Regions from separate parts of the Homo sapiens genome. Here regions 1, 2 and 3 are each reported to be linked to region 4. The links are microRNA targets in miRTarBase. Many come from high-throughput screens and were not tested one by one. Region 4 holds a microRNA gene; each other region holds the end of a gene's coding sequence.
The links. Region 4 holds the annotated microRNA hsa-miR-6752-3p (UCCCUGCCCCCAUACUCCCAG, at 2,168-2,188, shown strand). A microRNA usually pairs through its seed, bases 2 to 8, with sites in the 3' UTR of a target mRNA and lowers its output. Matches are read on the target gene's strand: a 7mer-m8 pairs with bases 2 to 8, a 7mer-A1 pairs with bases 2 to 7 and ends in A, and an 8mer does both.

Region 1: miRTarBase lists UBD as a target of hsa-miR-6752-3p. Seed matches in the 3' UTR shown: 7mer-m8 at 3,644-3,650.
Region 2: the mRNA of HNRNPA1L2 is a reported target of hsa-miR-6752-3p. Seed matches in the 3' UTR shown: 7mer-m8 at 436-442.
Region 3: miRTarBase lists TMEM151B as a target of hsa-miR-6752-3p. Seed matches in the 3' UTR shown: 8mer at 3,662-3,669, 7mer-m8 at 2,618-2,624 and 7mer-m8 at 1,989-1,995.

Annotation. Positions count from the first base shown.
Region 1 is chr6:29,552,209-29,556,261 of GRCh38, forward strand. UBD (ubiquitin like modifier D) reads right to left here. Exons shown (of 2, transcript NM_006398.4): 2 at 3,307-4,053. The coding sequence ends at 3,672. OR2I1 (olfactory receptor family 2 subfamily I member 1 (gene/pseudogene)) reads left to right here. Exons shown (of 2, transcript NM_001396058.1): 2 at 1,017-4,053. The coding sequence ends at 1,958. Among named protein-coding and RNA genes, the nearest start is that of OR2I1, 3.8 kb to the left of the region's middle.
Region 2 is chr13:52,643,116-52,647,168 of GRCh38, forward strand. HNRNPA1L2 (heterogeneous nuclear ribonucleoprotein A1 like 2) reads left to right here. Exons shown (of 1, transcript NM_001389320.1): 1 at 1-658. The coding sequence ends at 340. Among named protein-coding and RNA genes, the nearest start is that of HNRNPA1L2, 2.7 kb to the left of the region's middle.
Region 3 is chr6:44,276,251-44,280,303 of GRCh38, reverse strand. TMEM151B (transmembrane protein 151B) reads right to left here. Exons shown (of 3, transcript NM_001137560.2): 3 at 860-4,053. The coding sequence ends at 3,777. It overlaps DRC5 (dynein regulatory complex subunit 5), which reads left to right. Exons shown (of 5, transcript NM_182539.4): 5 at 1-1,570. The coding sequence ends at 123. Among named protein-coding and RNA genes, the nearest start is that of TMEM151B, 7.8 kb to the right of the region's middle.
Region 4 is chr11:67,488,128-67,492,179 of GRCh38, forward strand. MIR6752 (microRNA 6752) reads left to right here and starts at 2,118; the gene lies at 2,118-2,188. AIP (AHR interacting HSP90 co-chaperone) reads left to right here. Exons shown (of 6, transcript NM_003977.4): 3 at 1,140-1,328; 4 at 1,911-2,087; 5 at 2,189-2,330; 6 at 2,661-2,976. The coding sequence ends at 2,866. It overlaps PITPNM1 (phosphatidylinositol transfer protein membrane associated 1), which reads right to left. Exons shown (of 24, transcript NM_004910.3): 24 at 3,641-4,052. The coding sequence ends at 3,906.

The DNA.
Region 1 (4,053 bases), not on the chromosome of region 4:
TAAAGCCAAGGATTTGGGACAGGAAACTTAGATGACATCTAGTTCAAACTCCTTGATTTACATATGAAAAAATTGAGACAGAGGGAAATGAAGATTTCCCCATATCATATAACTGGCTAAAGGGAGCTATGTAGGTAAAACCAAGATGTCCTGATATTCTAGTCTACCAGAAAGTGTTCTTTTTTTCTACCCAACTTATTCCTGATTTAAAGGCTAGTATACGTGTGCTGATCTCCCCTCAGTGGGAGGGGCATGGACGTTGGGAGTAGTCTCTATTCACAACAAATTAAAAATCAGTAATCAGCCGTATAATGGGTTGTGTTAGAAAGTAAACTAAGGCCCAATAAAATATTTAAGAGTTTATTTGAGCAGTGATCCAGAAGTGGCTAGGGAGCTCCCCAGAGAGAACATGAGGAGGAGGCTTTTTAGGACAAATAGATAAAAGCAAAGATAATATTTCATTGGTTACAGTTATACAGTTACACAGTTATACAGTTGCCTTATTTGGTCTATCCCATGAGGAAGTCCTAGTTACTAATTACGTTTTTGTTGGCTGCTTCTGATTGGTTGAGCTTAAGTTCTGTGTTTCTTTAACATAGGCATTTACAAGAAATACCACAAATAAAGTTTCAGACATGCTTGCAAATCAAGCAAGGTTAAGGTCACTTAGGAGGCCCAACTGGCTCTGTCTGCTCAAGGATTCTTCTGGCCTCGTCTCCATTTTACATGAACTGTTGCATAAATAAACACAGAGTACCTGAAACAACGGAGGTGATCATTCTGCCTACCGAGTGTTGGCCAGGCCAAGCTTGGAGTGTTGCTCTTATTCTTAGGGAGTTTATTTTTAAGTAATCTCATCTGTAAATGGGATTACAATCCACAAACTGACCTTGTATATGATTCCATTCCTTCTCCCAGCCCAGCCCCACACTCCAAGGTTTTCCCTTTGCTTATAAGGGGTAGTCACCCTTTTTTATTTCGACCTTCCAAACATTCTGGGAGTTTTCCTCCTTTAGGCCAACTACAGCGCAGAGGAGCGCTTTCTCCTGCTGGGTTTCTCCGACTGGCCTTCCCTGCAGCCGGTCCTCTTCGCCCTTGTCCTCCTGTGCTACCTCCTGACCTTGACGGGCAACTCGGCGCTGGTGCTGCTGGCGGTGCGCGACCCGCGCCTGCACACGCCCATGTACTACTTCCTCTGCCACCTGGCCTTGGTAGACGCGGGCTTCACTACTAGCGTGGTGCCGCCGCTGCTGGCCAACCTGCGCGGACCAGCGCTCTGGCTGCCGCGCAGCCACTGCACGGCCCAGCTGTGCGCATCGCTGGCTCTGGGTTCCGCCGAATGCGTCCTCCTGGCGGTGATGGCTCTGGACCGCGCGGCCGCAGTGTGCCGCCCGCTGCGCTATGCGGGGCTCGTCTCCCCGCGCCTATGTCGCACGCTGGCCAGCGCCTCCTGGCTAAGCGGCCTCACCAACTCGGTTGCGCAAACCGCGCTCCTGGCTGAGCGGCCGCTGTGCGCGCCCCGCCTGCTGGACCACTTCATCTGTGAGCTGCCGGCGTTGCTCAAGCTGGCCTGCGGAGGCGACGGAGACACTACCGAGAACCAGATGTTCGCCGCCCGCGTGGTCATCCTGCTGCTGCCGTTTGCCGTCATCCTGGCCTCCTACGGTGCCGTGGCCCGAGCTGTCTGTTGCATGCGGTTCAGCGGAGGCCGGAGGAGGGCGGTGGGCACGTGTGGGTCCCACCTGACAGCCGTCTGCCTGTTCTACGGCTCGGCCATCTACACCTACCTGCAGCCCGCGCAGCGCTACAACCAGGCACGGGGCAAGTTCGTATCGCTCTTCTACACCGTGGTCACACCTGCTCTCAACCCGCTCATCTACACCCTCAGGAATAAGAAAGTGAAGGGGGCAGCGAGGAGGCTGCTGCGGAGTCTGGGGAGAGGCCAGGCTGGGCAGTGAGTAGTTGGGGAGGGGAGAAAGTATTAAGCCAGAACCCAAGGATGGAAATACCCCTTAGTGAGTCAGTTTAGACTTCAGGCTGTTCATTTTTGTATGATAATCTGCAAGATTTGTCCTAAGGAGTCCAATGGGGGATATGTTTTCCTCCCGTGAGGAAATGTTTAGTTCTTGAGGGAAAATCCCTAAATCCTCTATATACTCAGGTTTAGGGAAGGAAAACCTACCCCTCACAACTCCACGCGCAGGGAAAATGATGGACGTGATGCTCGCCTTTAGCTTCCTCCCTATCTGATGGAAGACCATGGAAGACCTCTTGGTCTCTGCAATCAGAAGTCTCAAGTTGACAAGAAAATCATAGTCCCTACCCTGCAGGAGAGGGTACATCCAGAAAAAGCGACCATGGACTCTATTCTCAGAAATCAGTCCAACTTAGTGCAGACCTGGCCAGATGACCAGTGCCCTCCCCGGGGCATTTCACCCATAAATGTGATGAGGAAAGCCCATAAATGGTGGTGAATTTTGCTGAGTGGGGTTAAGACTGGAAACCCCCCTGCAGGAGTTGGTTCTTGAGCAAGTTTTAAAGAAACAAGGAACTAGGATGAGTGTGGAAGAAGGCGGGCACGTCTCAGCCCGTGAAAAAAACTCACAGGTGATCAGTAGTGAGTCATGAGAGAGAGAGCAAGAGAGAGAGTCAGAGAGAGGAGTAAATGGAGGGAGGAAGATGGAGGAAGGGACTCAAGTTCTCAAGACAGGAACAGGGATCTCCTCATGAAAAAAAGAAGAGAGGAAAATGCTCAATCAGCAGAACCTGAGCAGAATATTGAGGTCAACCCAGAAGCCAGCTCCTCACCCACCCTCACCCAGACTGGCGCCCTCATCCTGGAGAAGACCTGCTAGACCCTAAGGCAGGTAGGAGAGAGGGTGGTCCACAGTCCCCCAGCTTTAGAAAGTTTGTTCGCTCCCAATGTCCATCTACCCCTAGGAATCCCCACTAGTTAAACAGAATTGCTAGATCCCTGTGGAAAATACCTTTCCTTGCCCACCATCATCCCCAGAAATAATAACTATTTTAGTTGGGTGTGAGACATAGAGAATAAAAGGGGGCATGGTGCCAGACTTCATTTCATACAAATAGCTTTAAAGGAGAAGAGGGGGGAAGGAGTTTAATTTAGTTTCTAAAATGTTTAGTAATTTGATTGTGATCATGTCAGAGCAACTAATTCATTTTATAAAATATCATTTCACTATGCTCTATAAGTAGAAATTCAATTTGGTTCAACCATTATTGAGTGATATAAATAAAGCACTGGACTTAACAAAGACAGAAATACAGAAATCAGTAGAACATGGATCCCAACCTAAAACTTACTCTCTTGTCATAAAGGAAAGGAGATAGGAGTTTTTGCATAAATAACAAGGTATCAAGACAGAATTAAATTCCAAGCTGGCTTTGAATGCTCTATTTTGCCTTAAAAATTTATTTACTAGTCTCAGTAATACATTAGTAAAAATCATGTCACTTAATTAATTGTGTTAGAATCAAAGAAACATAGAGTTGGGCAATATACTTCATCCTACCCATCCCACCCAAATCTTACTCTACTCATCTCATTCTCATTAATTTTGGGAAATCATCAGAAGATGTGTTCGTTGAGTAAGAGATTAAAAGAAATAAGCTTTTTGACCCCTGCCAACACCCCATGCCCAGGGTGGTCACCCTCCAATACAATAACATGCCAGGAAGAGTAAGTTGCCCTTTCTGATGCCGTAATCTGCCATCATCTTCCCATCTTCCAGTCTCTTTCCATTGCAAGTCACAATCTGGGTCTCAGGGATTATACCCGTCTTAGTCTCGATCATTGCTTTCACTTGTGCCACTGAGCTGGACCTTCGCACCTGGAGGAGGTGCCTCTTTGCCTCATCACCTGACTCCACAAGAAACAAGGGCAGCTCCTCATCACTGGGCTTCACCACTTTCAGGGTAAGGTGGATGGTCTTCTCTTTGTCAATGCCATAAGATGAGAGGCTTCTCCGTGGCTTTAAGATCTTGGAGCCCAGCAAAAGAACCTGGTCCTGCACAGGAACCTTGGTCTTA
Region 2 (4,053 bases), not on the chromosome of region 4:
TGGTTTCGGTGGGAATGACAACTTTGGTCGTGGAGGAAACTTCAGTGGTCGTGGTGGCTTTGGTGGCAGCTGTGGTGGTGGTGGATATGGTGGCAGTGGGGATGGCTATAATGGATTTGGTAATGATGGAAGCAATTTTGGAGGTGGTGGAAGCTACAATGATTTTGGCAATTACAACAATCAGTCTTCAAATTTTGGACCCATGAAGGGAGGAAATTTTGGAGGCAGAAGCTCTGGCCCCTATGGCGGTGGAGGCCAATACTTTGCAAAACCACAAAACCAAGGTGGCTATGGCGTTTCCAGCAGCAGCAGTAGCTATGGCAGTGGCAGAAGATTTTAATTAGGAAACAAAGCTTAGCAGGAGAGGAGAGCCAGAGAAGTGACAGGGAAGCTACAGGTTACAACAGATTTGTGAACTCAGCCAAGCACAGTGGTGGCAGGGCCTAGCTGCTACAAAGAAGACATGTTTTAGACAAATACTCATGTGTATGGGCAAAAAACTCGAGGACTGTATTTGTGACTAATTGTATAACAGGTTATTTTAGTTTCTGTTCTGTGGAAAGTGTAAAGCATTCCAACAAAGTGTTTTAATGTAGATTTTTTTTTTTGCACCCATGCTGTTGATTGCTAAATGTAATAGTCTGATTGTGACGCTGAATAAATGTCTCTAAAAAAAAAAAAGATCTTTGGTGGAATCCGTAGGCTGCTTTTTCATCTGGTGGCTGTGGCTCTCTGGTGTTTTGTCCTCAACAGCCACATCTAATATGAGCACTGGGAAGAAGACTCTTTCTAAGGCTGCTCAGCTTTAGAGTACATTTCTTGATGGTGTGAGCTTGGTGTCCTGTCTCAGAGTCACTAGTTTCCCAGCCCGAAACAGTTGTGTCTCAATGCCCTCCATCCTGCCTTTTCCACCCGGCCAATTACACACCATTCTAGGTCTGTTTTGTAGCACTCCACTTCCAAATACCAAATTGTCTATCAGTTTGGATTCTTAGTCGTAAGCAACAGAGATGGATTCTGGTTTTCAGCATAAGATAAATTGTATTAGAAGAATATTGTGCTGCTTGCAGAATGGCCAAAAGGACTAGAGAATCAGCATCAGTCTGAGCCACACGGCTGGGAATAAATCCTGGAACCATACTGCATAACTGGTCGGGTGAGGAGATTGTAGCCACTGTTGCCAAGCACTGACACACTGCTTTGTAACACTATCTGCTGCTTTGGGAATTTGATCTTGACACATGTGCTACTGCATCTGGAGAGGATACACTAAGGTCCTTCCTTGATTTGTTGTTGCTAACCAGTTACCAATTTTAAAGTATGTGCAAGTTCAGCTTAAGTTGTTTGGCATTTTCAGCTTTTATAGAGGGAGACTGGCTCAGTGGGAAGACTCAAGGAATTCCCCAGACATAAGAAGGAGCTGAATTCTAAGTAACCCAAAAGAAAGACCTACTTAAGGACAAATCCAGGTTTTGTGGGGCCAAAATTTACACAATTTGTTGGGGTTGTGGGAGTGGGGAGGGGATTTATTTAGGAAAAATACGTACAAAATTATATTAACAAATTAGATAGGGTTTGAAGGGGCTTTTGCAAATAAACACCCCTGAAGCTGTACTTTCCAAATCACTCCGCTAGATCTGATTTCAAGCCCACTCTGCTCAGCACAGGTTATCTCATGCTGGTTACCTCCTATATGTTCTTCAGGCTTTGGCTGAGACATTACTTACTCTGAGCTTTCAAAATCTTCTGACTGCTTTCACAGAACCCCTTTAATCTCTCCCATTTAGACATATATGACACTATAATAACTGCCTGTTGATATGCGTGATTCCAACACTAGATTATTAAGCACCAAGATTGCAGTCATTTTAGTATCCCCAGTCCCTCGCATATCTATACATAGGAGGGATTCAATATTTATTAAGTGAGAAAACTACATATTCTCCTTGCCTTTTTTTTCTTTCTTTTTTGAGACAGGGTCTCGCTCTGTTGCCCAGGTTGGAGTGCAGTGGCATGATAACAGCTCACTGAACCTCGACCTGGGCTCAAGCAATCCTCCCACCTCAGCCTCAGTACACTCAGTGGACTACAGGCATGCACCACCACATCTGGCTAATGTATTTTGTAGAGAAAGTGTTTTACCATATTGCCCAGGCTGGTCTCGAGCTCCTGGGCTCAAGGGATGCTCCTGCTTTGGCATCCCAAAGTGATGGGATTACAAGTGTGAGCTACTGCGCCTGGCCTCCTTGTGCTCATGTTCTTATGTTGCTTACCACCATCCATATGCTGATGACTATCAATTCTTATCTATAGCTCTAAATGTGTTTTAAAAAAATAGCTTTAGGCCGGGCGCGGTGGCTCACGTCTGTAATCCCAGCACTTTGGGAGGCCAAGGCGGGCGGATCATGAGGTCAGGAGATCGAGACCATCCTGGTTAACAAGGTGAAACCCCATCTCTACTAAAAATACAAAAAATTAGCTGGGTGTGGTGGCGGGTGCCTATAGTCCCAGCTACTCAGGAGGCTGAGGCAGGAGAATGGTGTGAACCCGGGAGGCAGAGCTTACAGTGAGCCGAGATCACGCCATTGTACTCCAGCCTGGGCAACAGAGCAAGACTCCATCTCAAAAAATAAAATAAAATAAAATAGCTTTATAGGGCTATAGTTGACATAAAGCAAACCATGCACATTATTTAAAGTGTACAGTTTGAAGTGTTACATATGTATACACTCGTAAAATCATCACCATAATCAAGATAGTGAACATACCTATTACCCCAATGTTTCCTCATGCCCCTTTTATTCTTGAAATTCCACCCTGCTCTCCAGCCCCCACCCCCACCCAGTAAACCACTGATTGTCATACAGATGAGTTTTAAAATTTTTCAGGATTTTATATAAATGGAATCATACAAAATGTACTATTTTTGTCTGATTTTTTTCACTTAGCATAATTTTGAGATTCATCCATGTTATAGTGTGTAGCAATACTTCATTCCTTTTATTGCTGAGCAGTATTCCATTGTATGGCTATACTGGCTATACTGCTGTTGTTTTTTGTTTGTTTTGAGATGGAGTCTCGCTCTGTCGCTCAGGCTGGAGTGCAGTGGTGTGATCCTGGCTCACTGCAACCTCCACCTCCTGCATTCAAATGGTTCTCCTGCCTCAGCCTCCTGAGTAGCTGGGAATATAGGTGCGTGCCACATTTTTTTGTATTTTTAGACGAGACAGGGTTGGCCAGGCTAGTCTCAAACTCCTGATCTCAGGTGATCCACCCGCCTCCGCCTCCCAAAGTGTGGGATTACAGTCATGAGTCACTGCACCTGGCCAGCTGTACTACTGTTTATCCATTCACCTATTGATGTACATTTGGGTTGTTTCCAGTTTTCAACTGTTAACCATTAAAACTGCTATAAACAGACACAGACATTTTGTACAAACATTGCATGAACATGTTATTTCATATCTCTTGGGTGCTAATTGTGTAGCAGTGGTCTAAGTCATTTTATGGTTGTGCCTTTTTACATTCCTACCAGTGGTGTATGAGTCTTCCAGTTGCTCTACATCCTTGCCAACATGGTCAGTCTTTCTCCTTTTAGCCGTTTAAATGGGTGTGTAGTGGCATATGGTTGTGGTTTTAATTTCTATTTCCCTATTGACTTACAGTTTCTGAGTTTTGAGACATCTTCATATATTCTGGATGCAAGCTCTTCATCAGAGATGTGATTGCAAATATTTTCATAGTGTAGAATCTTTTAAATTTTGGTGAAGTCTAATTTACAAATTTCTTCTTTTATGGATCATGCTTTTGGTGTGCTAAGAAATCTTTGTCTAACCCAAGATCACAAAGATTTTCTTTCCTCTAGAAGTTTTATAGGAGTTGTAGCCCCATAATCCATTTTGAGTGAATTGTTGTACATGGTGCAAAGATACACACTGAAACTCACTTTTTGGCACATGTATATCCAGTCTGTTTTAAAGTCTCTCCTTTTCAACTGTTTTTTCTCCACTGAATTACCTTTGGACCTTTGTTAAAAATCAGCTGTCTACATAT
Region 3 (4,053 bases), not on the chromosome of region 4:
AGCGAGTACCTCATTGGCCAGGCCCTCTACGCAAACCGAGAAGCAGCCCGCCAGCGGGCCCTGAATCCCAGCCACTTCATGTCAACCATAACTGCCAATGGCCCTGAGAACTCTGTGGGATAAAATGACCTGACTTGGATCATGGCCCCAGCCCCATCCCTCATTTCATACCCCTGCCATGCCTGCTGCAGAGTATCACACTGGTTCAGAGGGAGCGGGGAGGGGGACTGTGAATAACCTTGGAGTGATCAAGGGTTGTATGGATGGAGACATGAGGCAGGGAAGGGAGCCTGGCATGGGGGAAGAAAGGGTATGCAGTAGGGACCCAGCCTTTGTGCCCAGGGAAAGGATATTACTGGACACCCACAAATGACCAACTTCTTTCAGGAACAGGGAAGTCAGAGAGGTGTCTGAGGGACTGTGCCTGCCAGATTCTCCCGTTGGGGCTGCCTGCCTCCCTGACTCCCCACCATTTTCTTCTCTACCAAACAGATCCTTGATCTTCAAACACACACACACACACACACACACACACACACACACACACACACACACCCTCTGGCTACAGCAGGGCTATGCCTGGCTCTCTCTGCCACCCTCATCCCTGTAGATGCATTTCCCTGTTGCTTGACTCTGCTTTAAGTGATCCAGTTCTACAGGCCACGCCATCCCCTAGTTCCCCAACTCCCAACCTGGGAAGGGGACAATGAGCTGACACCAGGGGCTCAGACCCAGTGGACTCCTCTGGGGAGGCAACTGTAGATGACAACTTCCAGGGAAGGATGACACAATCCCTGCCACCCACCCCAGAGAGCTTCCCTGGGAGGGAGGGAAAGAAGTGCCACACTGGGACAGGAAGTCAGTGAGTCATCCACGACTTTATTATCCACCAGTTTGATTTGTACAATCTTTGCGCTTAAATCCACGACAAAAAGGCCACAGTGTGATGCACCCAATTGACAGAGACCTGTCTTCTCCCCAGCCAGGCCCAGCCCACCCCACAAGCCCTTGTCCCCAGGACACATGGAGCCTTCCAGGTGCCCTACATGAGTCCCCCATCACTCTGTAGCTGTCCACCCTGGGGCCACACCTACAGGAATCACATCAGCCCCCAGGGCCACAAGAGACCTAGCTGACTGATTCAGGCTGAGCGCCATTGCCCATCCTCCTTGGGCTGATTCATTGGCCCAGAGCCTCCAGAACTGTGTCCCCAAAGGGCAGGTCATGGGCTACAACCCCAGTCCAGGAGTGCCTGCTCTCCAGGGACTCCTTCCGCTAAGCAGGCGCTGAGCAGAGCACCAAAGGGGGCTTGGGAGTGACTGCATGTGTGTGCCTGTCTAGGCAACCTAGAGTCTGTCTGTGCCTGACACCCTCTGACAGTTCCGGAGTGCAAACGTGTAGGTGTGAGGGTGTGTGTGTGTGTGTGTGTGTGTATAGCCACAGCTGCTAGCAGAAGTTCTAATTAGAGAAACAAGAACATTCAGTGTAAAGTTTAATTTTAGAGATTAATTAATTTTCTGGTTTTCATTTTCCCTGGCAATCAGTAAAGCTACCAAGAAAATAGACCAAAGAATTGGTTTCTCTCTAAGTCTGTGCATGTGTGGGAGATGAGGCTGTCTGAGACGACCTAGGCAGAAATGGTCAATACAGGCAAAAATAATAATAGAGGTCCCCCTTCCCCTCTTGTGAGACCAGGCTCTGTCTCAGGAACAGGCCTGAGGGAGGAGGAGCCACGTTCCTCCTTCCTTGGAGCCCTGAGGTGGCCAGGCTGTCCCCACACAAAGCATGACATCCAGGTGCCAGCTGGCTAAGAAATGGAGCCTGAGGCTGCAGCTCACCACCTGTACCTCACAGATGTCCATTCAGAGGAAAGAAGGGTGCTCCAAACGCCAGGCCCCCAAGGAGCACAGACTCAGGGTCCAGGCAGGTTCAGTGCTAGTAGGCAGGTGGGCACTGCTGTCCAGGAAAACCTGGTGGGCAGCTGTTTCCCCTGCCCAAGCCTCCCTCTCTCTAGCCTCTTCTCCCTCCTCACTCAGCCATCTCTACCTGAAAGTAAAGCTAAACCCTTTAGAAGCCATGGGCCATGGTATCCCCACAATTTGGGCCCCTCGCACTCCCCGCTAGGAAGAAGGGAAGGGGAGCCAGAGGCGATGTTGCATAGGTGGAGGCCACACAGTTGGTGGTGCAGGCCTGGCTGGGCTGAAGGAAGATGAGAGGGGCTGAAGGAGGGTAAGGAGGAGTTCTGATGGCTCAGGCGAAGTAAGAAGCATCAGGGGTGAGAGATGTGGGTGGCCCAAGGGTTATCCTCTCTAGCCTGAAATGTGAGCTCAATCCCTGGGTGCTAAATCTGCTGGGGAGACTTTAGCCAGGGGAGTTGGCAGGGCAGGAGGGCTGTTCACAGACATGCACACTGAAGCACATCAGGGTGGAGGTGGTGGGGGGAGCACACGGAGAGAAGGCGGTGTCAGAGCTTTAGGGGAACAGGACGTGGGGCCAGCGCCCTGGGGTGGTGGCAGGATGCCCCTTTGAAGACCCTGCGACACACAGCAGGGCTTCAGCTCATAGGATAGGGAAGGATGGAAGGGTTGGGCAAGATTTAGAGAATGCTTGCCTCTGACCCTGCCATTGGAATTATTTCTCCAGTTGGGGCTTGTGACAACGTCCTCAGTCCCCCAGAGATGTGTTTGAGCGACAAGCACACTCCACTCCTCCGCACAGGTTTAGGGAGGCAAAGGCCGCCCCCACAGACACCCCACCTCTGGAGGTCCTTTTCCTCTACCCTCCACTGCCCTCTCCTCTCTTACTCCCACCTGCTTCCAGAGGTCCCCGTTGCCACCCAGGTCTATGTCATGCTCTCTCCCCTTAGTCACTCGTGCTGGCCAGCTTTAACGAGTGCTGCCCGGGTGGCATCTCACTCTCTAAAAGGGGTATACACTCAGAACCCAGGTGAGGAGGCCCCTGTTGGGAGGCTGAGGAGTTTAGAGAGAGGACTGAGGTACACAGTCCTCCACATTTCACTCCCCTCCCCACTGCACCCTGGCAACAGCTCTGCAGGACTGGGGAGCGGAAGGTGAGTGATGTCTGTGCAGTGAGCACAGTCCCTCTGGACCTGGAGTGGGGGCCCAGTTAGATAAACAACAGTGGAGGGAGCGGCAGAAAGGAAACCCCAATCTTGGGGTCAGCGCCAAGAAGAGGGCAGCAACATTTCCACGGTGTTGGATGGAGGCCTAGGGCTGACACCTGGCCCCAGCCTCAGACCTGCTGAATGCATTAGCTAGTTGGAATCCAGCCTGCTGGTCACCAAACCATTGCCCCCTCCATAGAGAGAGGCCCCAGGGGAGTGAGGCCACGAAGGAAGGAAAGCCCCAAGTTCCCTTCTCCACAGCCTCTAAATCTCCCATCCGCATGCCAGGGCCTCTCCCTTCAGACAAGGCCCAACGCGGGGCCCACGGCACGGTTGTCATCTAACAGAAGATCTGTTGAAGGGCTGGACAGGAGGGAGGTGTCCCTTTAGGAACTCAGGGTTGGGGCTGGAAGAATGACTCTGCCAGGGGGATCTCGGGGAGCAGCCGACCCCCTCCCACCCATCGGTCTCTTTATGTACAGGGACAGCGGGGGTCTCGGCCCCATCCGGGCCTGTCTTGCGGCCCTCACCTCCCTTTCCCTGCCCCCCGCGCGGCCTCAGTCACCGTGGTGACTCGCCCTGCGTCGCAGAGGGAGCACAGTCCGGCGAGGGGCAGGCGGGAGGACGGCGCGGGCCACTCCGGGGCCGGAGGTCACAGTGAGGTCTCTACGCAGGAGCCGTGGCGGTGCAGCGGCCGGTGGCTGTGGCCCAGACACCCCTCCTGCCGGTGGACGATGAGGACCGGAAAGTAGAGGGCGTCGTGGTAGGGCGGCGGCGGCCCGGCCTCCTCCTCGTCGTCGTCCTCGTCGTCCCCCATGCTGGCCTGGCTGGACAGCCGCGTCTGCTCCGTGGGGCAGCTGGCCTCGTTGACGCTCCCGCTGCGGCTGCGCCACAGGCAGCTGCGCCGGGAGCCGTAGAGACGGCCCAGC
Region 4 (4,052 bases):
AGCCCTCCCTGACTGCTAGTGGTTGGCTCAACTCCCATGTTTGGGTCCTCCAACCCTCATGCCCTGCATGGCCAGGATCTGCTCTTCTGCCTTGTCCTAGGCTATTGCAGAGCAGGGATCTGGCCTGTTTACTTCTAGCTTTGGGATGCCCAGCGCGAGCCAGTCCAGAGCCAAGACTCAGGAAATGCCCGCTGATGGCAGCCCGGCAGTCAGCCCCTGTCCAGACAACAGGGCAGTGGGAGGAGTGGGGAGGACCCGGGTAGGAGGAATCTGGTTATCTGGTTCCCACCAGCCTAGCAGCTTTGCCAAGCAAGAGATTAGAGGCTAGGTCCCCTATGCCTGTCTCCCTGTGGGGTTTTTTTTTTTTTGACTAAGTCTCACTCTGTTGCCCAGGCTGGAGTGCAGTGGCGTGATCTTGGCTCACTGCAACCACCATCTCCTGGGTTCAGCTGATTCTCTGCCTTAGCTGCCTGAGTAGCTGGGATTACAGGCACCTGCCATCGTGCCCGGCTCATTTTTGTATTTTAGCAGAGACGCGGTTTCACCATGTTGGTCAGGCTGGTCTTGAACTCCTGACCTCAGGTGATCCGCCCGCCTTGGCCTCCCGAAGTGCTAGGATTACAGGCGTGAGCCACCACATCCGGCCTCCCTGAGGGTTTTGAAGTGGCTGGCCTGGGCCCAGCTCTGAGGTAGGCCCTCAGTGGGGTGTGGGTGGGGCAGAAGGAGGAGCTGCTGGGAACAGAATGTGGGGGGCCCCAGTTCTTTGCATAGTCCAGCAAAGGGCCTTATCCTCTGGAGGGAGAGGAGGTAAGAATTCTACTGGGCCTGTAAGGACCAGGGAGACAGGGGTTGATGGTAGGCATGTGTCTGTGGTGGGGGTGAGGAGGGGGTTAGGTGCTCTGTTTGGTGGCCAGAGAATGTGGCAGAAGCTGGGGCTTCACCAGGAGAGAGGGCTGAGCGACTGGAGGAGTCCTGAATTAAAAGCCTCCTGTGCTTAAACGGAGTAGGGTCCCAGTTGTCACTCTCTGGGCCTTGGTGTTTGTTCTCAGATGGTGGTGGGGAAGGGGGCTGGGCCTTGTGGACCCGGTGACCAGCCAGCCCACGGTGACAGAGCCCCCGGCGCCCTTGCCTTCCCGCAGCATGTGGTCCTGTACCCGCTGGTGGCCAAGAGTCTCCGCAACATCGCGGTGGGCAAGGACCCCCTGGAGGGCCAGCGGCACTGCTGCGGTGTTGCACAGATGCGTGAACACAGCTCCCTGGGCCATGCTGACCTGGACGCCCTGCAGCAGAACCCCCAGCCCCTCATCTTCCACATGGAGATGCTGAAGGTGAGGGGCCACCGCGCCTGGTCTCACCAGGCCCCCACTGCCCAGCCTCAGGGCGGCGCTGGCCTGTCCACCCAGGGGTGGTGGGATCCGCAGGTGGACTGCTGGGGGAGCGGACAGAGACAAGAAAACCTGTGCAGGACCCTTGGCAGTACCCTGGGTCTCCTTTCCTCCTCCTTCACATCTCAAATGTCACCTCCTCCAGGAAACCGGCCCTGCCCACCCGGTCTCCTCATTCTCTGTCTCGCAGCAGCTCATTTCCTTTATAGCCTCTGCCGCACCTTGAAGTCCCTTGGAATTCATGGATTTCCTTGTCCATTTAGGGAACCTGCCATGCAGCATGATCTCTGCGAGGGCAGGGCTTTTCACCGTCTTGTTCACTGTTCTATTCTTAGCACTTGGCACAGTGCTGGGCACACAGGAGATGTGACATCGATGTTTGATGCTTTTTGAGTGACAAGTAGCTCTGCTGCTGGTGTGTGATGTCTGGGGGCCCAGCCAGCCCAGATGTGGGTCAGGTCTGCTGCTGACGGACGCAGCTGTGGTGTCCCCGAGCCCCGCTGTGATATGCCCCATGCCCTGCAGGTGGAGAGCCCTGGCACGTACCAGCAGGACCCATGGGCCATGACAGACGAAGAGAAGGCAAAGGCAGTGCCACTTATCCACCAGGAGGGCAACCGGTTGTACCGCGAGGGGCATGTGAAGGAGGCTGCTGCCAAGTACTACGATGCCATTGCCTGCCTCAAGAACCTGCAGATGAAGGTACTGCCTGGAGGCTGAGGGGGAGGATGGATGGAGGGGGGTGTGGAGCCAGGGGGCCCAGGTCTACAGCTTCTCCCCGCTCCCTGCCCCCATACTCCCAGGAACAGCCTGGGTCCCCTGAATGGATCCAGCTGGACCAGCAGATCACGCCGCTGCTGCTCAACTACTGCCAGTGCAAGCTGGTGGTCGAGGAGTACTACGAGGTGCTGGACCACTGCTCTTCCATCCTCAACAAGTACGACGGTGAGCACCGGGCCCTGGGCTGCCGGGGGCTGCGAGTGGTCAGAGAGTGGCCTTTCTCCTGTCACTGCTGGGGTCAAGACCTAGCCTTTCACAACCCCCATTCTGAGCTCCCACGGGGGCCTGACTAAATGCCTCTACTCGGCAGGGCTGTGGGCCCCATTGTGCCAATGAAGCATGAATGGTGTATTGGGGGTGGGGTGGCATCCTCAGGTCAGGGAGGGCTCTCTCTCCCCTGTGGGCCCATGGTGCCAGGAGACATGAGGGCAGGCAGCTGGCCAGGATCCCCCCTCATGCCCTTGCATGCCCACTGCCCACTGGCCTCCCCTGCAGACAACGTCAAGGCCTACTTCAAGCGGGGCAAGGCCCACGCGGCCGTGTGGAATGCCCAGGAGGCCCAGGCTGACTTTGCCAAAGTGCTGGAGCTGGACCCAGCCCTGGCGCCTGTGGTGAGCCGAGAGCTGCGGGCCCTGGAGGCACGGATCCGGCAGAAGGACGAAGAGGACAAAGCCCGGTTCCGGGGGATCTTCTCCCATTGACAGGAGCACTTGGCCCTGCCTTACCTGCCAAGCCCACTGCTGCAGCTGCCAGCCCCCCTGCCCGTGCTGCGTCATGCTTCTGTGTATATAAAGGCCTTTATTTATCTCTCTCTGAGTCTGCTGAGCTGCTCCACTGGGAGAGCCGGGTCATCACCTGGCATTCCTGGTACTTGGGTGGCTGTTGGGAGGCAAAGAATCAGGGTTCAAATCCTAGCCCCTCCACCCACCAGCTCTGAGGCTCTGGTGTCCCTGTTAGAGAAATTACGATGAGCTCTTTCACCAAGGAAGTGTCTCTCGCTGGCCAGGGCTGGGGCGCCCCAGGAGCCCACAGTCTTAAGGGGGAGATGAAGTGGGTACAAGCTAGGTAGCTGGGCACCTGAGGGAGGTAGTCTCCTGGTGCTGCCCTCCCACTCCAGCCTCGGATCCCATGGTCTCCTGGCCTCGGTGTCTGGGGGCAGGGTTTCCATGAGAAGCTACGCTGGGGCTGAGGTGAGCCGGGTTGGGCTGGGGTGGGCTGACTGTCCAGAAAGAGGAGAGGGCCGAGCGCTTCGTGAGACCTTTTGAGGCCCAGGCCCCCATCCTGACCTGCCTGTGACATGGATGGCCCTGGGCGTGGGTTTCGTGCGACCTTTTGAGGCCCAGGCCCCCATCCTGACCCTGCCTGTGAGCTGGATGGCCCTGGGTGTGTGTTGGCCTCTCTGTGCACATCAGTGTCCCCTGTTGAACTGGAAACTGGGCTGGCTGCCCTGTGATGCCAGGCATGGGGTGAGTGGGTGGGGTGCAGGTGGCGTTTATTTTCATGGATTTATACACACTGGAAAAGCCTCTGCGCCCATGCCCACGCCCTCCTCCCTCCCCCCGGCGCTGGGTCCCCTCATATGAAAGGGAAGTAACACCGAGGAGCACACGGAGATATAGGGTGTGGGGCTGGGGGGGCCAGCGCTGGGGCCAAAAGTCTGGGTCCCCAGCCTCCCACACGCAGCCCCTCGGGCCCCTTGGGTGTGTCAATAAATAACCCAGGTCCAGGCTGGTGTGGGCCTCACTCCTCGCTGTCCAGCTTCAGGCTGATGCTCCGTGCTTTGCCCCGTGCCAGGGTGGTGGGTGGTGTTCCCGGGCCCTCACGCTCCGCCTGGCTGGGGCCCCTCGAGCGAAGCAGCTGGCTCTGTTTGCGCAGGAAGTCCACGGG